Homo sapiens: one gene and its partners. The protein of the gene in region 2 purifies or fractionates together with the protein of the main gene of each other region. This does not show direct contact. Each region holds a gene or a part of one and is shown on either strand. Other genes may lie near its edges.

Evidence for each region.
Region 1: the proteins of DSTN (region 2) and CORO2B purify together in Homo sapiens (co-immunoprecipitation; one large-scale study listed by IntAct). This does not show direct contact.
Region 3: the proteins of DSTN (region 2) and RNH1 fractionate together in Homo sapiens (co-fractionation; one large-scale study listed by BioGRID). This does not show direct contact.
Region 4: the proteins of DSTN (region 2) and PCDHGA9 purify together in Homo sapiens (co-immunoprecipitation; one large-scale study listed by IntAct). This does not show direct contact.

Annotation. Positions count from the first base shown.
Region 1 is NC_000015.10:68,581,993-68,585,492, reverse strand, and holds part of CORO2B (coronin-2B), read right to left. Parts: intron 1-3,500. UniProt on the Homo sapiens protein: May play a role in the reorganization of neuronal actin structure.
Region 2 is NC_000020.11:17,597,335-17,601,371, reverse strand, and holds part of DSTN (destrin), read right to left. Parts: intron 635-4,037; coding exon 327-634; intron 1-326. UniProt on the Homo sapiens protein: Actin-depolymerizing protein. Severs actin filaments (F-actin) and binds to actin monomers (G-actin). Acts in a pH-independent manner.
Region 3 is NC_000011.10:500,743-504,242, forward strand, and holds part of RNH1 (ribonuclease inhibitor), read right to left. Parts: intron 1,508-3,500; 5' UTR 1,421-1,507; coding exon 1,320-1,420; intron 1-1,319. UniProt on the Homo sapiens protein: Ribonuclease inhibitor which inhibits RNASE1, RNASE2 and angiogenin (ANG). May play a role in redox homeostasis. Required to inhibit the cytotoxic tRNA ribonuclease activity of ANG in the cytoplasm in absence of stress.
Region 4 is NC_000005.10:141,405,778-141,409,277, reverse strand, and holds part of PCDHGA9 (protocadherin gamma-A9 isoform 1 precursor), read right to left. Parts: intron 1,258-3,500; exon of another isoform or gene 1,076-1,257; coding exon of another isoform or gene 1-1,075. Other genes in the region: PCDHGB6 (protocadherin gamma-B6 isoform 1 precursor), read right to left, coding at 1-1,075. UniProt on the Homo sapiens protein: Potential calcium-dependent cell-adhesion protein. May be involved in the establishment and maintenance of specific neuronal connections in the brain.

The DNA of each region.
Region 1 (3,500 bases), on a different chromosome or scaffold from region 2:
CACTAAGCCTCACTCTCCTCCTCTAGAAAATGGGATGGATAATAGAATCTACCCCATGGTTGTACAGAGTAAATGCGATCATGCGTGCCCAACGCCTGCTTAATAACTGTTATTATCATGATGATGGTGATTAATCTTCATGGGTTGTGGACCATTATGTGATCGGATTGAAAAGGTTCTGGCTCAAAGCCAGAAGATCTGGGCGTGCATCCCGCCTCTGACCCACATTAGCTCTGGGACCAGGGTGTGGTCATCTCTCCACTCAGACACTCTGTTTATCCGTCCCTAAATAGAGGGGACCGTCCCCACCATGACAGAGCTGATGGGATTCAGGGAAGTAACCCATGTATGTATTCTGTACGAAAGACAGCCTGAGCAAACCTGGGAGCCTCCCATTGCTACATTAATTAATTGGAAGGAGGTTGCCAGCCAGAAACCAATTACAAAGTCCCTCCAGGGGCCTCTGCGGGGGCAAAAAGGAGGGATGAGGAAGGGCGGTGGTGGCTTCTCCCCCACTCCCCACCCCCACCCCACTTGTGCCTCCTTAGCAGCTGGTCCCGCACTCCAGGCCCACAAAGGAGAGGCTCATTCTAAACAGCTACTTTTCATGTGGAAGCCACTGGATTTGCATCTGTCCTTCCCTGGCAAGGCCTGCCCCATGCCAGCTGCCCCAAGCTCCCCAGGCTGCAGGGTGCTCCAGGACCCTGGGCCTGAGCCTGCAGGGCCTACAGGGGAAGGAATGGGAACCCAATGGGGCTGATCAGGAAAAGAGGGAAGGAGACAGGGCTGGGCGCAGAGAGAATCTGCACACGTTCTCATCTCCTGGACACCAGATAAGCTCTGTGGCCAGGCATATCCAAATCAGAGTCAGGGCTGCCCGGGTGCCAGGAGCCGAGACTCCACCAGCCCTGGCCCTGGCGGAGGCTGTGTCTGCTTCAGCTAGCTGGCCTGGGAGAGAAGTGGAAAAACTCACTCCATCCCTGAGCTGCCAGGACATTGGCCCAGCCAGCGCCCACACTCCCAACCAGCCAAACTCAAGTGTGTGCCAACCTCACAGGGCTGGCCACTGTGGGGTGATTCTGGGAGCCCTGGAGAGCCTCAAACCCTTCCCAGCTTCCTCTAAGAACTGCCATAGGTGTCAAGGTGGCAGTGCCTCGGGGGAGGGGAACACAGGGCCTCTGGGCACAGTCCAGAAGAAAGCACCTGACAGCGCTTTTCTGGAGAGTGAGCTTCATTGCCTAGAGGGAGAGACAGTAAGGAAGGAAAGAGCCTGCATTCATTAGGCACTTACAGTATGCAGGCAAGGCAAGAGGTCTCCTGGCTCATGCCCACTGGACCTCGAGACTCTGAACTCAAGGCTTTGGCCTTTCCATGTCCTTCTCCTCTAAGGTCCTGGATCCCAGGGACTGTGGCTAATGCCACTGTTTTCCTAATGCCTCACACAGGGCCTGGCCCAGAGTAGGTGCTCAGAGGGTGCTGGCTAAATGAACGAATGACTGCTAGCCGCACACCTCCCAGCATGAGAATGCTGGATATCTGGAAGAAGGCCGGGAAGGGAGAGGAGGCATAATGGGTGTGTGGGCAGAGCAGGCAGAGCCCTTGCCCACCCGCAAGTGGGCTCCCACCCGGGAGCTGGGTCTGTGCTGGTACCCCCGCTTCCTCTTCACCAAGGCTTCCTGAGGTGCTGGCTCTCTTACTTCCTCTCCCAGGGAGACCCAGACAGGAACGAGGTGCTGGGATGTAGAATGTCTGGAGGTTCAGGTATCTCCTGGGTACCTAGATTCTGCGTCAGGGAACTGGAGGCAGAGGGGCCTCATAATCCCCCTCGCCATCTGACTGTAGGTATAGCAAGGCTCCTATGGACTTTGCTCCCCTGCCCCACATCCTGTCCCTCCTCCCACTCCCGCAATGCTTCTTCCATCTAGGGCAGATGGTGTCCCACAGAGGGAAATCCAGGCACCAGCAGGACAGGAAGGGGCGATGCAGTGGGGTAAGTGGAGTGGGGCCAAAACATTTGTGCCTGCTCAGAATGCCCCAGGACCCCTTGCCAGGGCAGCCGGGTGGAAAGAGCACTGACCATGAGTCAGGACCGAGGTGCCAGCCCCTCCAGCCTCAAACTTACTGAATGACTTTGGGCAAGTTACAACTTCTGCTCCCAGCGTCTCAGTTCCCTCATTTCTCAAGGGAAAGGGTTGGGTGATTTGCCCGCTCCAAAATTTTATTCTCCTATGGGTGACTCTGTAGGGGCCCTAGAGACACATGATCTTTGGAAAATGCAGGCCTGCTATTACCTGGGCAGGATAACATCATCCTCAGTCCTTTCACATTCAGCAGGAGCCACTGGCTCTTATCAGCAGGCTGTGCCCTGCTGGAGCTGAGGCAGGAGAGGGAAGGCTGCCTGCAGAAAGAGGGGCCAGGGCACAGTTGATCGTGCTGCCCACGGACCTACAATCTATCTGCTTAGCAGGGAGGAGCATGTTGGCATGAAAGGTCTTCTCTTTTCCCACACTCCCTCTCCTAAGGCCTTCTAAGGTGCAGCAGGCAATTGTGCTGCTCAGGGTACTTTGCTCCTGGACCGCTGACCCCCCTGAGCCAGGCTCAGGAAGGTAAAAAGCATTCAGCTCACTAGCGTCTAACTTAACACAGCACACCTCAAAATAGGGGAGCCTGGTCACTATAAGCCACCTCCTCCCTTACCTGGAAGACCCACCTCTGGGTCACATCACAGCCAGCAGCCAGGAAATCACCCTAAAGGGCCTCTGAGCAGTACAAAGCGGGTTGCAAGGGCCTAGACTTTAGCTCACAGGTTTTCTTATAGCCCATTAACTTGTACTTTACACACGACTCTATTAATGTACCTTGTCCTCTGCTTTTCCAGTTGATAGCAATGTAGAAACAGATATTTAGAACTGGAGAAGCACTGCTAGTCTGGTACATGACTGAGATGGAACAGAACAAGAAAATTATACAAAGCAGTCAGAAGAACCTGAAGAATAAAATCAGCTGGAGCTACTCGTCTCAGGGAAAGCAGCCTTGGCTCCCTCGCCCCGAGCTGCCCTAGGAAGCACGTTGGACTGAGAGGAGGCAGCACCTTGACCTCCTGTGCATGCTCAGGGCCCTGCATCAGAGCCTTCCTTCCCTCCACTCTTTCTTCCCTTTTTCTGGCTTTCTTCTCTTTCTCATCCTATAAAGAAAGTAAGGTAACTTACTAAATTACATACAATCAAATAAAGTTTAAAACATAGCCAGGAGAAATGCCACAGGGCTAGAAGTTCTCCGGGGCTCTGTGTTCCTAAGGCTAGTTAGGGCAGGAGTCCTTCAGAAACCACAGGGTTTGCCGGCAGCTTTAGCAGCTGTGCCTCATGGTTAAGGGGGCAAGGGGATGTATGAAAGAGAGGCGGAAAATGGAAAACAGGCTCACCTCCTCTACAGAAGTGCTACTGAGGATCTAGCAACTTGCCATCTGCTTTCCTCTTCTCCACTTGCCAGGCCTCTCTGAG
Region 2 (4,037 bases):
GGTTTTGGCTTATAAGTAAGAAAGTTAAAAGTAGTAGGAAATTTTAGCCTATAAAAGCAGTACATTCAGAGGATGCCTCCTGTCCTTTCCCCATTGAAAAAAAAAACAAAAACGGAGAGTCACATAACAAGTAGATAGAAAATAGTCAAAATTTAGTTTGGGTCCCATAAACATCAGCCCTGGTAACATTATGAAACCTGTAAATAAAAATTAAATGACAACAACTGCAAATAGTTTGAATAAAAATTACTTTGGTGCTGGAACTGGTCTTCCCGAGTGCTAACAAAATGAGTTTTACAGAGGCTCAATATTTCTAACATGCTTACCACAAAAAAAACATCAACTCTTCTTTTCTGGATTCTTTTGTTTCAAAGCTTGCATCATACAAAGCATAGCGACAATCTTTTTCAGGAAGCATTCCCACAAAATGCTTGAAAGGATCAGTTATGGTTACACCAACATCTCCAACCAAGATCTCTTTGCCTTCTTCTACAATGATGCACTTTTTGTCTGCACTGAGACAAAAAATGACAGCCTTCTTTCTTTTCTTGATTTCTTCTGGTGTGGAGCATTTACGAACTTTCATGTCATAAAAAATGCGACATACTTCATCAGCTACTTGCACTCCTGAGGCCTATGATGAGAAAATACATGAGAAAAAGACTTACAATTTTTATTGTGCCAAACATAAAATAATAAATTCTGCTTATAGATTGGCATATATTTAACATTTTAAAGGTATATCATCTAATTAAAAAACTAGAAATTTGAGCTGTAATCACTACTAATTTTAGACATCAAACTTTTTAAAAGATCACAAATATATGCCATTCCTCACTACTGCACAGGGGTAAGGAAACATTCAACTATAGCAGCCTCTCCTACCCTAGAACCTTAAAAGAAGTGTTTCCTAAGGTGCTGGGTTATTTTCTTCTTATACAGGTTGCTTAGAGCCTTGACTACAGGCAGATCATCTTCCCAGTGTGTATATTCATGATACCTAAAATTCCTTTTGTAATACACAGTAGCTGGTCATAGCTGCTAGACTGGGAAATTTCCATCCCTACAGCATCTCTTTCTCTAATAAAAAAAAAGATTTATTAAGAGGTCTTTGCTCTACTCACATTTCAAAATTATGTGATCAATATTCAGTATTAGTCACACTTGCCATTAAAATTTCACTTAAAAATTCCAAATTTTAAACTAAGATTAGAATAAATAAGAAAATGTCTACTGCTATAATAAAGAGGGTAGCTTAATTAGGGATTATACTGACCAGAAAAATTACCTTTCGCTATGTTATACTTGCTATTCTGGGCTGAAGGACAGTTAAACAAAATCTTGATAGCACAAGATCTTAAACCAGTTTTTAATTTTTTCATCTTGAGGAATGTGCTATTTACATTAACTTTATTATATCCATAATTGTTAATGCCTCATTAACTACTTTGTTTTGCATGTTAGCTTTTCTAAAGCAAGAATTATAAAGCCCAACAAGAGATGCCCAGGAGGCTCTGCCAGTCATGGTTGAACAGCACTGGAGGATGATCAGACTAAGGGAAGAATGTAGACAATCAAATGTGTGATTGCAGGAGATGTGGCTGTAGACAAAGCCTGCCTCCCCATCAGTTATACAACAAATGCCTTTCCTAAGGAGTATATGCCCAATGTCTTTGACAACTACAGCACCCAGACATCTGTGGATGGCCAAATCATCAGCCTGAACCTGTGGGACACCACTGGCCAAGAGGAGGAATATGACCAACTGCGACTGTTCTCCTATCCCCAAGACCAATATCTCTGTCATTTGTTTTTCCATTGGCAACTCATCCTCTTAGGCCAATGTGAGGCATAAGTGGTACCCAGAGGTCTCCCATCATTGCCTCAATGTATCTGTTATGCTGGTAGGCACCAAAAGGGACCTGTGGAGTGACCATGAGACAGTGAAGAAGCTGAAGGAGCAGAGCCAAGTGCCAATGACTCCTCAGCAAGGCCCTTCCCTGGCTAAGCAGGTGGGAGCTGTGAAGTATCTGGAATGTTCAGCCATGATGCAGGATGGGGTGCATGAGAGATGGGGTCTCGTTATGTTGCCCAGGCTGCAGCCTAGTGGCTATTAACAGGAATGATCATAGCACACTACAGCCTTGAACTCCTAAAATTGGGCAGTCCTCCTGCCTTGGCCTCCCAGATAGCCAGGGCTGCAGGTGCATGACAAAGCGGCTGGTTACTTCATTCTTTTTACTGTTGAATAATGTTCCATTGTTTGGATATCCCACATTTTCCTTATCTATTCATCAGTTGATAGACATTTGGGTTGTTTCCACTTTTTGACTATTAACACTGCTATAAACACTCGTGTACAAGGTTTTGTGTGGGCATGTTTTTAATTCTCTTGGGTAGAAAACTAGGAGTGGAATTGTTGGGTCATATGGTCAATTTATGTAAAACCATGCTTTGAGTCAAGAATGGTATCTTTAGGCTGGGTAGTAGCTATGCCTGTAGTCTCAGCACTTTAGAGGGAGAGGGCAGGAAGATCACTTGAGTTCAGGCGTTTGAGACCAGTGTGGGCAACATAGGGAGACCGTGCCTCTAAAATTTTTTTAATAAAAAGGGAAAAATGAATCATAAGCAATAGAATTTAAATACTAAACAATGGAAAAATATTAATGATACCCAAATGTCAAATCATTTAAGAAATAAAAATGCATATAAGATGAAGATAACCAACAGAATGAGAGAAAACATCCAAAAATCCTACAAGGAACTTGTCAGAATAAAGAACCCTTACAACTCAATTATAAAAAAAGGCAAATACTTCAATTAAAAAACAGTTTTAAAGGATTTAAATAGACAGTTCTCCAAAGATGTATAAATGGTTAATAAGGACGTGGAAAAAATGCTCAACATCAATAGTGATTAGGGAAAAGCAAATCAAAACCATAATGAGATACCTCTTCACTTCAAAACCATAATGAGTCACCCACTAGGAGGGCTAAAATAAAAAAGATGGACAATAACAAATGTTTGTGGGGCCATGGAGAACTTGGAACCCTGATATGCTACTGTAGAACTGTAAAAGGGTACAGCTGCTTTGGCAAACAGTTTGGCAGTTCCTCAAAAAGTTAAACATAAAGTTAACACCTGACCTAGGAATTCCACTCTTAGGTATATATACTCAAGAGAAATGAAAATGTGTCCATACCAACACCTGTACACAAATGTTCATAGTAACATTATTCAAAATAGACCAAAAGTGAAAACAATCCTAAAGTCCATTTAGTGATGAATAGATTTTTAAGATGTAGTATATCCACACAATGGAATATTTCTTGGCCATTAAAAAAATGAGGTACTGATACATGCTACAAGGATGAACCTTGACAAACACTGTGCTAAGTGAAAGAAGCCAGACAGAAAAGGGCACCTATTGCATGATTCTATTTATATGCAATGTTCAAATTGGGTAAAATCAACAGACAGTAGGTAGATTAGTGGTTTCCAGAGGTTGAGAAAAAAGGGGAATGGGGAGTGACTGCTAATGAGTATGGGTTCCTTTCTGAAGTAATGAAAATGTTCTGGAAGTTGACAGGAGTGATGCATACACAACTGTGAATATACTGAAAAACCACTGAATTGAACTGTACTTTGTGGTATGTGAATTATACCTCAATAAAGTTATTACAACAAATACCATGTGTTCGCACTTAGGAACTAAATAATGTGTACACCTGGACACAGTGTGAAATAAAAGACAATGGAGAGCCAGGGGAGGATGAGGAATTAATTAATGGGTAGAATGTATGTTATTCGGGTGATGGATACCCTAAAAGATCTGGCTTCACTGCTACCATCCATGCATGTAGCAAAATTACACTTGTACCCCCATACATTTATACAAACAAATAAAAATAAAGTTGTCACTTTAAAACACATGCAAGAATCCTGGGAGAAAGATACACTAAGATCCTAGCATTTACTTAATATTAAGGTAACTGGGCTATTTCATCATCTCATTCATTAAAGATCTCTAAATAACA
Region 3 (3,500 bases), on a different chromosome or scaffold from region 2:
CAGTGGGCCCAGAAGACAGCAAGGCAAGTCACACAAGACATTTCAGAAATGAAACAAAAAGGAGGAACTGTTCCATGAAAGTTTTGTTTAAGATGCTCGCACGTGGCCAGGCGCGGTGGCTCACGCCTGTAATCCCAGCACTTTGGGAGGCCGAGGCAGGCAGATCACCTGAGGTCGGGAGTTCAAGACCAACCTGACCAACATGGAGAAACCCCGTCTTTACTAAAAATACAAAAGTAGCCGGGCGTGGTGGCGCATGCCCATAATCCCAGCTACTCGGGAGGCTGAGGCAGGAGGATCACTTGAGCCCAGGAGGTTGAGGCCGCATAAGCCATGAGGGAGCCACTCCAGCCTGGGTGACAGAGCAATGCCCTGTCTCTAAAAATAAAAAGAATTTAAAGTATCTCTCGAAGGCACTGATCAGTCACAGGAGGAAAGGCAGTGGCGTCACAGTGGAGAGGGTGGCAGACGGCGCCTGTGACAGGACGCTCCTGGCAGGCCCCACGGCATCTCCCTGCATTCCTGCCAAAACTGTAGGACTTCAACCACAAGAAACCACCAGACAAGCCCCAACAGAGGACGTCCTGCAGGAGCCTGGCCAGACCCTCAGACCACCAAGAACCCAGAGAGACGAGGGGACAGTCACAGACGGGAGAGGGCTAAGGAGACAGAGGGCTGAGGGCCACGCAATCCTGGACCAGTGAGGAAGACGAAAAGGGCAGGGCGGAAAAGCAGACCCTGCCTGGAGGTGCTGGGCCAGAGCTAGCGTCCGCAGGTACACAGGACCACCTCACCAGGGAGCCCCGTCCGGTCCTCGTAACTCCTCCGCAAACCTGACACTACTTGAAATCACCAGGTAAAAAGAGAAAAGATGCGGCCCACCCAGGCACTCGTGTCCTGCTTGTGAAGCTGCTGGGTTTGTGAGGACCTCGAGGGCCGAGGACTCCCAGCCCCCAGCTTGGCAGGGACAAGCAGCGCCCCATGGAGGCTCACGGAGGGGACCCAAGCTGTGTCCTGCCCTCGTGTCTCCAAGGGAGGGAGAGGAGCTGAGACACCGGAGCCAGAGACCCACTGGCCAGTGGCCGCCCACCTCGGCCCGCCCACCTCAGCCCATGCTGCATGAGCCTGGAATGGGTTTTACATTCCTAAATTGTCAAAAAGAAACACAAGAATCACATCTCATGCACGTGGTAGCTGCACAGAATTCATACTTCATGTCCACAAACAAGGCGTTCCAGAGCAATGCACCCTTCAGAGGGAGCCGCCACCCGCCAGCCTGCCCCACCAGCACCCCAAGGCCACCCCGAGAGCAAGCGTACCTGACCACTTGGCACTGCTGGAGCAGAGGGAGGAGCTCGGCCCATCTAGCGTCGCTCAGCTCCTCACACTGGATGTCCAGGCTCTGGATGTCCAGGCTCATGGTGGAGGTGAAGAGTGGCCTGGGTGGGAGGCAGAGGGAAGAGGACGTCTTGGCCGAATCCCCTCACAGTTTCACAGGCCGGAGATTCTGCAAACAGGACCCACAGGGCTGATGTTTCAGGAGGAGCCGCAGCCTCTCCCTGGGCAAACACTTCCTCTTCAGCACCCTCCCCACCTTTGTCTCTGGAGCAGACATCAGGGGTGGGGCAGGGGGCAGGGACCAGCACCCACCCCCAGAAAGGCCACCATGGGCAGCAGAGCTTGGGTAATGCAGATGCCAGCCCATCTCCTGGCTATCACCACCCAGCCTCTGTGGGCACCTCCTCCTGCCCCACAGAGGGCGGGACAGCAGCAGCCCGGGAAGCCCCTGCCTCTCATTTGCTTGGGCAAGGACAGGGTAGGGTGGGGTGGTCTGTGAGCCTGGAGGCCCCAGCAGGGGAGCAAGGGGGTCTGTGGGCTTGACCTGTGTCTCACCCTCAGGACAGGCAGACTGTGCGGGCCAGGCAGGCTGCCCACAAAGCCAGAGACCTCCCAGGATGCCAGGATCCTGGACCCGGCCACAGTGTCCGAAGCAAGACAGAGCAGGGGGGCGGCCACTTGGGGTGTCAGCTTCCATGGCCCCCTTCTGGGGTTGGGGACTCTGCACCAGGCTACAGCACATCCCCTGCCCCACGGCACACTAGCCCAGAGGCTGGGCTACCAGGCAAGCTGGGTGGGTCAGCCTGGGATGGGCACAGCTGCTACACCCTGAAGCCTCCCCAGGCACAGGCCCTGAATATGGAAGGAGGTTCCTGAGGCCCTGAGAGCACAGCTCAGGTACCCGCCAGGGGCCTGGGGAAAGTGGTCAGGCAGAGACAGCCACCCCAAACCTTGGTTGGTGGATACATTCCCTGAGCACCTGCCAAGCACTGGCCTGGGGACTACAGCAGGGCAGGAACCTGGAGAGGAGGCTTGGATGGCCAGGAAGGCTCCCTGGAAGCAGCAGCACTGATGCCACAATGCGGGGAGGGGTGGGTGGGGTGGGGAGAGGGCTCTCATCCAGAAGCCCCAGAAAGTTGGCAGGATCCACTTGGGGAAATGATGCAACCCCAGCTGCCCTTCAGAAAGACGGCCAACAGGACCGCTTGAGAGGCTCCTGGTGCCCTGACACCCCCAGCTTCCTGAGTCTGTGTGCCTGGCACTCCTCTCCCCGGGGCTGCTTCAGAGGCGGCTGGTCCACTCTGCATGAGTGGAGGCAAGAGGCCCCTGGTACCAACTGGGAGGAAAGACGCAAGGCTGGGCTCGGGTCCACACGCCTGGGCGCCCGGCCTGCAAGGACAGTGGCAAAGGGTGGTGACATCCCACGGCCCCACATGGAGGAACTGAATCCAACCGACCCGAAGCACGTGAGCAAAACCGACCAGGGTGTGGTCACCCAAATTCTGACTCCAGAATCTAGTCATCAGGAGGCACTGTGGGCGGGAGGGCGGGTGGAAGGAGAGCCTCAGGGGGCTGCCCAGGGTGCACACGCTCCCCAAATCCAGCCTGACACTCCTGTGTCCTCTGCAGCCAGATGAAAGGTGGCCCCAGGGTGTCCTCCTCCTGGGAAAGCTTGGTGGGAGCTCAGGGTGGCCAGTGCTCCCGTGACCATCTGCAACTAGCGCTGCGGGAGTAGCCCCGTCCCTACCCCTCAGGCTTGGCCAGACCCTGTTGTATCCCAGAAAGGCCCTTCTGAATCTCTGTGGGTCACGGATCCCACTGAGGACCCCATGAAAATGCGGGAGTAAACGCCCTTCTCTGTGACTGGAGAAGTCCCTGGCTCCCTACACAGCCAAAGCTAAAAGCACATTCAGGAACCCACTACCACCAGCTGGCAGCCTGCTTTGGTTGAGGCAGGGATCTGAACAGAGGCCCTAACGGTCCCTTATCCGGAGACCAGACTTTCTCAACCTTACGGAGGGAGGTCTCCGCAGCACCCAAGGCCTGGGCCCCACCCTGGGGAGCCACATGGGAGGGGCCGTCTGGAGGCCAATTCAGGTCCTTATGTTCCGACGTGACGGGGGCGCGGGGCCACCCTCTAGGGAGACACGGGCCACGCTCAG
Region 4 (3,500 bases), on a different chromosome or scaffold from region 2:
TCTCCAAAATCTGATCAGAGAGAGAAGTGATGATTATTTCTGGGCTGTTGTCGTTTTCATCAAGGATTTCTATGATTACTTTACACTGGGTAGAGAGACCACCTCCGTCCTTCGCTTCCACTTCCATGGTGTACCTTTCTACATCTTCAAAATCAAATGACTGGTTATTCTTAATCATACCTGTTTTCTCATCCAATGAGAACATATGTTTTGTGCTCTGGGCAGTGCTTCGGAAGTAGTAGTTTATCTCAGCATTGACCCCCTCATCCTGGTCAGTGGCTGTCACTTGCAACACAGGGGACCCAGGGGGCAGATTTTCACTAAGACTAATTCTATATTCGTCTCTGCTGAAAACCGGGGGGTTATCATTGGTATCCTTGACAGAAATTTCTATGTGAGCGGTGGCACTTCTTGGTGGGTCCCCTCCGTCCAAGGCAGTCAATATCAAGCTATGAGATCTCTGTTCTTCCCGGTCTAGGAGTTTCTCCAGAGATAACTCTGGGTATTTGCCACCATCGGAATTAACTCTAACCATTAATGAAAAATAAGGATTAGAGTTTATCTTATAATCTTTAATTGAGTTTATGTTTATATCAGGATCCGTGGCAGGGTCAAGCGATAGTCGTGTACCAGCGGATGCAGATTCGAAAATTTCTAAATGTATTTCCTTTTTATCAAATTGAGGGGCGTGGTCATTAACATCCTCAATCACCACAATGACATGAAAAATATTTAAAGGATTTTCCACCACAGCTTCCAATTGCAACTCACATCTTCTTCTCTCTTTGCATATTTGCTCACGGTCTATTCGGTTCTTCACAAGTAAGTCCCCGCTCTCCGCGTCTACGCTGAAGTGCAGCTTCTCCGCGCTCACTCGCAGCTTGCGAGCCGACACATCCAGGACACTGAGCCCTAGATCCTTAGCGAGGTTCCCCACCACCGAGCCCTTGGCCAGCTCCTCCGGAATCGAGTAGCGGATCGGCTCACTCAGGGTGGGGTAGAACAAAGGCAGCAGCAAAGGAAATAGCACCTGCCGCGGGCCGGCCCGGCGCCTCTGCGCGCAGCTCCCTCCCATCGTTCGCTCGGGTTCTCGCTGGGTCCCCGCTTTTCCAGTTGGAGAAAGTGCACTCTACCGCGCTAAAAGAGCATTCGGCCCAGGACAGGAGGAGTCCCGGGTCTCGGAGCTGGCAATCCGCTGTGCTGGGAAAGGTCTGCGCAGCCGGGAGGCTCTGTGTGGGAGCTGGTTTTCTTCTTTCTGTTGTTGGCTGCGCAGGGAATCCCAGGCCAGAGGCTGACGGATCCCCGGCGTCAGCGCTTGCTCTGCACTGGCCGACAGCGGCGCCCAGAGGCTCCGTGCGGGACAGCAGCCCGGTTTTTCATTTTGAATTCGGTCTCCGAAATGTATATATTCTTCGAAAATGCAGGTGTACATCCCCCTCAAATTTTGCTCTCACCATAATATTATAGTAGATATTTCTATGCTTTGTGTTTTAAATAAATCTATTATGCACAATTTCAAACTTATACAACAGTAGGGAGTATATATAGTGAACCTTCACATAGCCATCACCCCACCTTCAACAATGATCACCACAAAGCCAATCTTTGTTTAATATATACTGCGCTCCCCCATTATTTTTAAGTAATACGAGATATAGAATGTCAACCAATGCTTCTTTTTAAGATGAGACATTAAGGTCAAGAATTTTATCTTTCAGCTTATGTTCTACAATCTGTTACCAATGCACAATAAGTTAAGTCCTACATAGCCTAAGAAAAACAGAAATAAAGATTTTCCATACTCCATTCAGTCATCTGTCTGGTGAGCCTCGTGTTCTGGTTTTAAGGGCAAGAGACATTTTTGTGGTATCGAATAGTAACTACCTACCATGACATACAAGCCTTCATGGATATCTGTTATGTTTTCCCCAAATTAACATACATTTCAATATTTATAAATACTAAGTATGAAGGCTACTCCTCAGAACAGAAATTGTAACAATTTTCTTGTTGCATGGTTAAAAATATGAGCCTGAAGTATGCTTTATTTTTTTTGCTACCCACTTAAGGGGGAAAACGTGTTTGAAATAATTAAAATGTCTGTATGTCATAAAGGATTCCCAGACACTTCAGCTTTTTTTTCTTAAAAATAAAGCAACTGAAACCCAAATAATTACAAACAAATAAAACAATTCTTCATTTCCACAGAAATGCCAGCAGTCATCAGTGTATCTATGGATCACATGTTTAGCATAGAATTTTGAGTCAACTTCAAAGCTTATTTTCAAATGTCTTGTGAAATGTTATTTACTATTTGAAACAACACTATGTTTAAAATAACATTAAATAATACATTATTCTCTTCCTTATAGCTAAAAACAGTAAAATAGTTTTAGAATCTTCCCAGCAGTTCCTGAGAATATTTTCTTAAATTATATCTGATATGCAAGTTCATTTCTAGACTCAAAAGTTGGAGAATTGAGCCAGAAATAATATATAAGTGAGAGAAATATTTTTAATTCCTTGTTTTGTCATTTCACAGTGTCCAGTCTTAGAAACTTCTCTTGAGCAAGCATATACTATAGAAAAGAAGAATGTCCTACTATTCTCCATAATTTAACATTAAAGCATTAGGAAATTAAGACCTTTGAAGATATGAGAATAAAAGATGTGACAACTTTCACCATTAAAGGGAAAAAATTGGTTTACTAGGGTTTGGAAGTGGATAACTGAAGTTTGAATCTTCGTCAGAAAATATCTGTAAACACAAACAGACTTTACACACTTGTGATCTGAAAAATATAACCTCAAAGAGGTGTTTTCCTGTCATAGAAATGGAAGAATAGAAGCAATAAATCTGGGCTTTCAGCTGTTTCTCTAAGAAGAATACATTTACCTTTTTATCAGTTTACCCTTACAAACATAGTATGACCTGAATAAATGATCGTAGGAGTAAGAATTTGCTGGGTGAGGTGGTTCACACCTCACCCAGTGCTTTGGGAAACTGAAGCAGGAAGATCGTTTGAGACCAGTCTGGGCAACATAGCTTGCTAGCCCTCCCACCTCAGTCCTAGCTACTGTGAAGGCTGAGGTGGGAGGATTGCATAAGCCCAGGAGATTGAGACTGCAGTAAGCTTTACCCACACCACTGCATTCCACCCTGGACAACAGAATGACACCCCCATCTCTTAAAAAAAAAAAAAAAGGAGTAAGAATTTTATGATATGAGTCCACTGCAACCAATGAAGCAACCCTACCCAAAAAGCCCACATCAATGCAGGCTGAGAGCTACCCCATGAAGTATGGTTTACGTTGACAGCAGGTTAATTATTATGAGAACATGAAAGTTATATCAGCAAATATAACTAATAAATGCCTCCTTTCAGTGTTGGAGCAACAATTAGGCCCAGTGAAAAGTGATGAGAAACACACTGATATCAACTTATACTACCTTAAGTACAGACAGTTAAAGAGAAAGCTAACTATAATAGAAAGTTAAG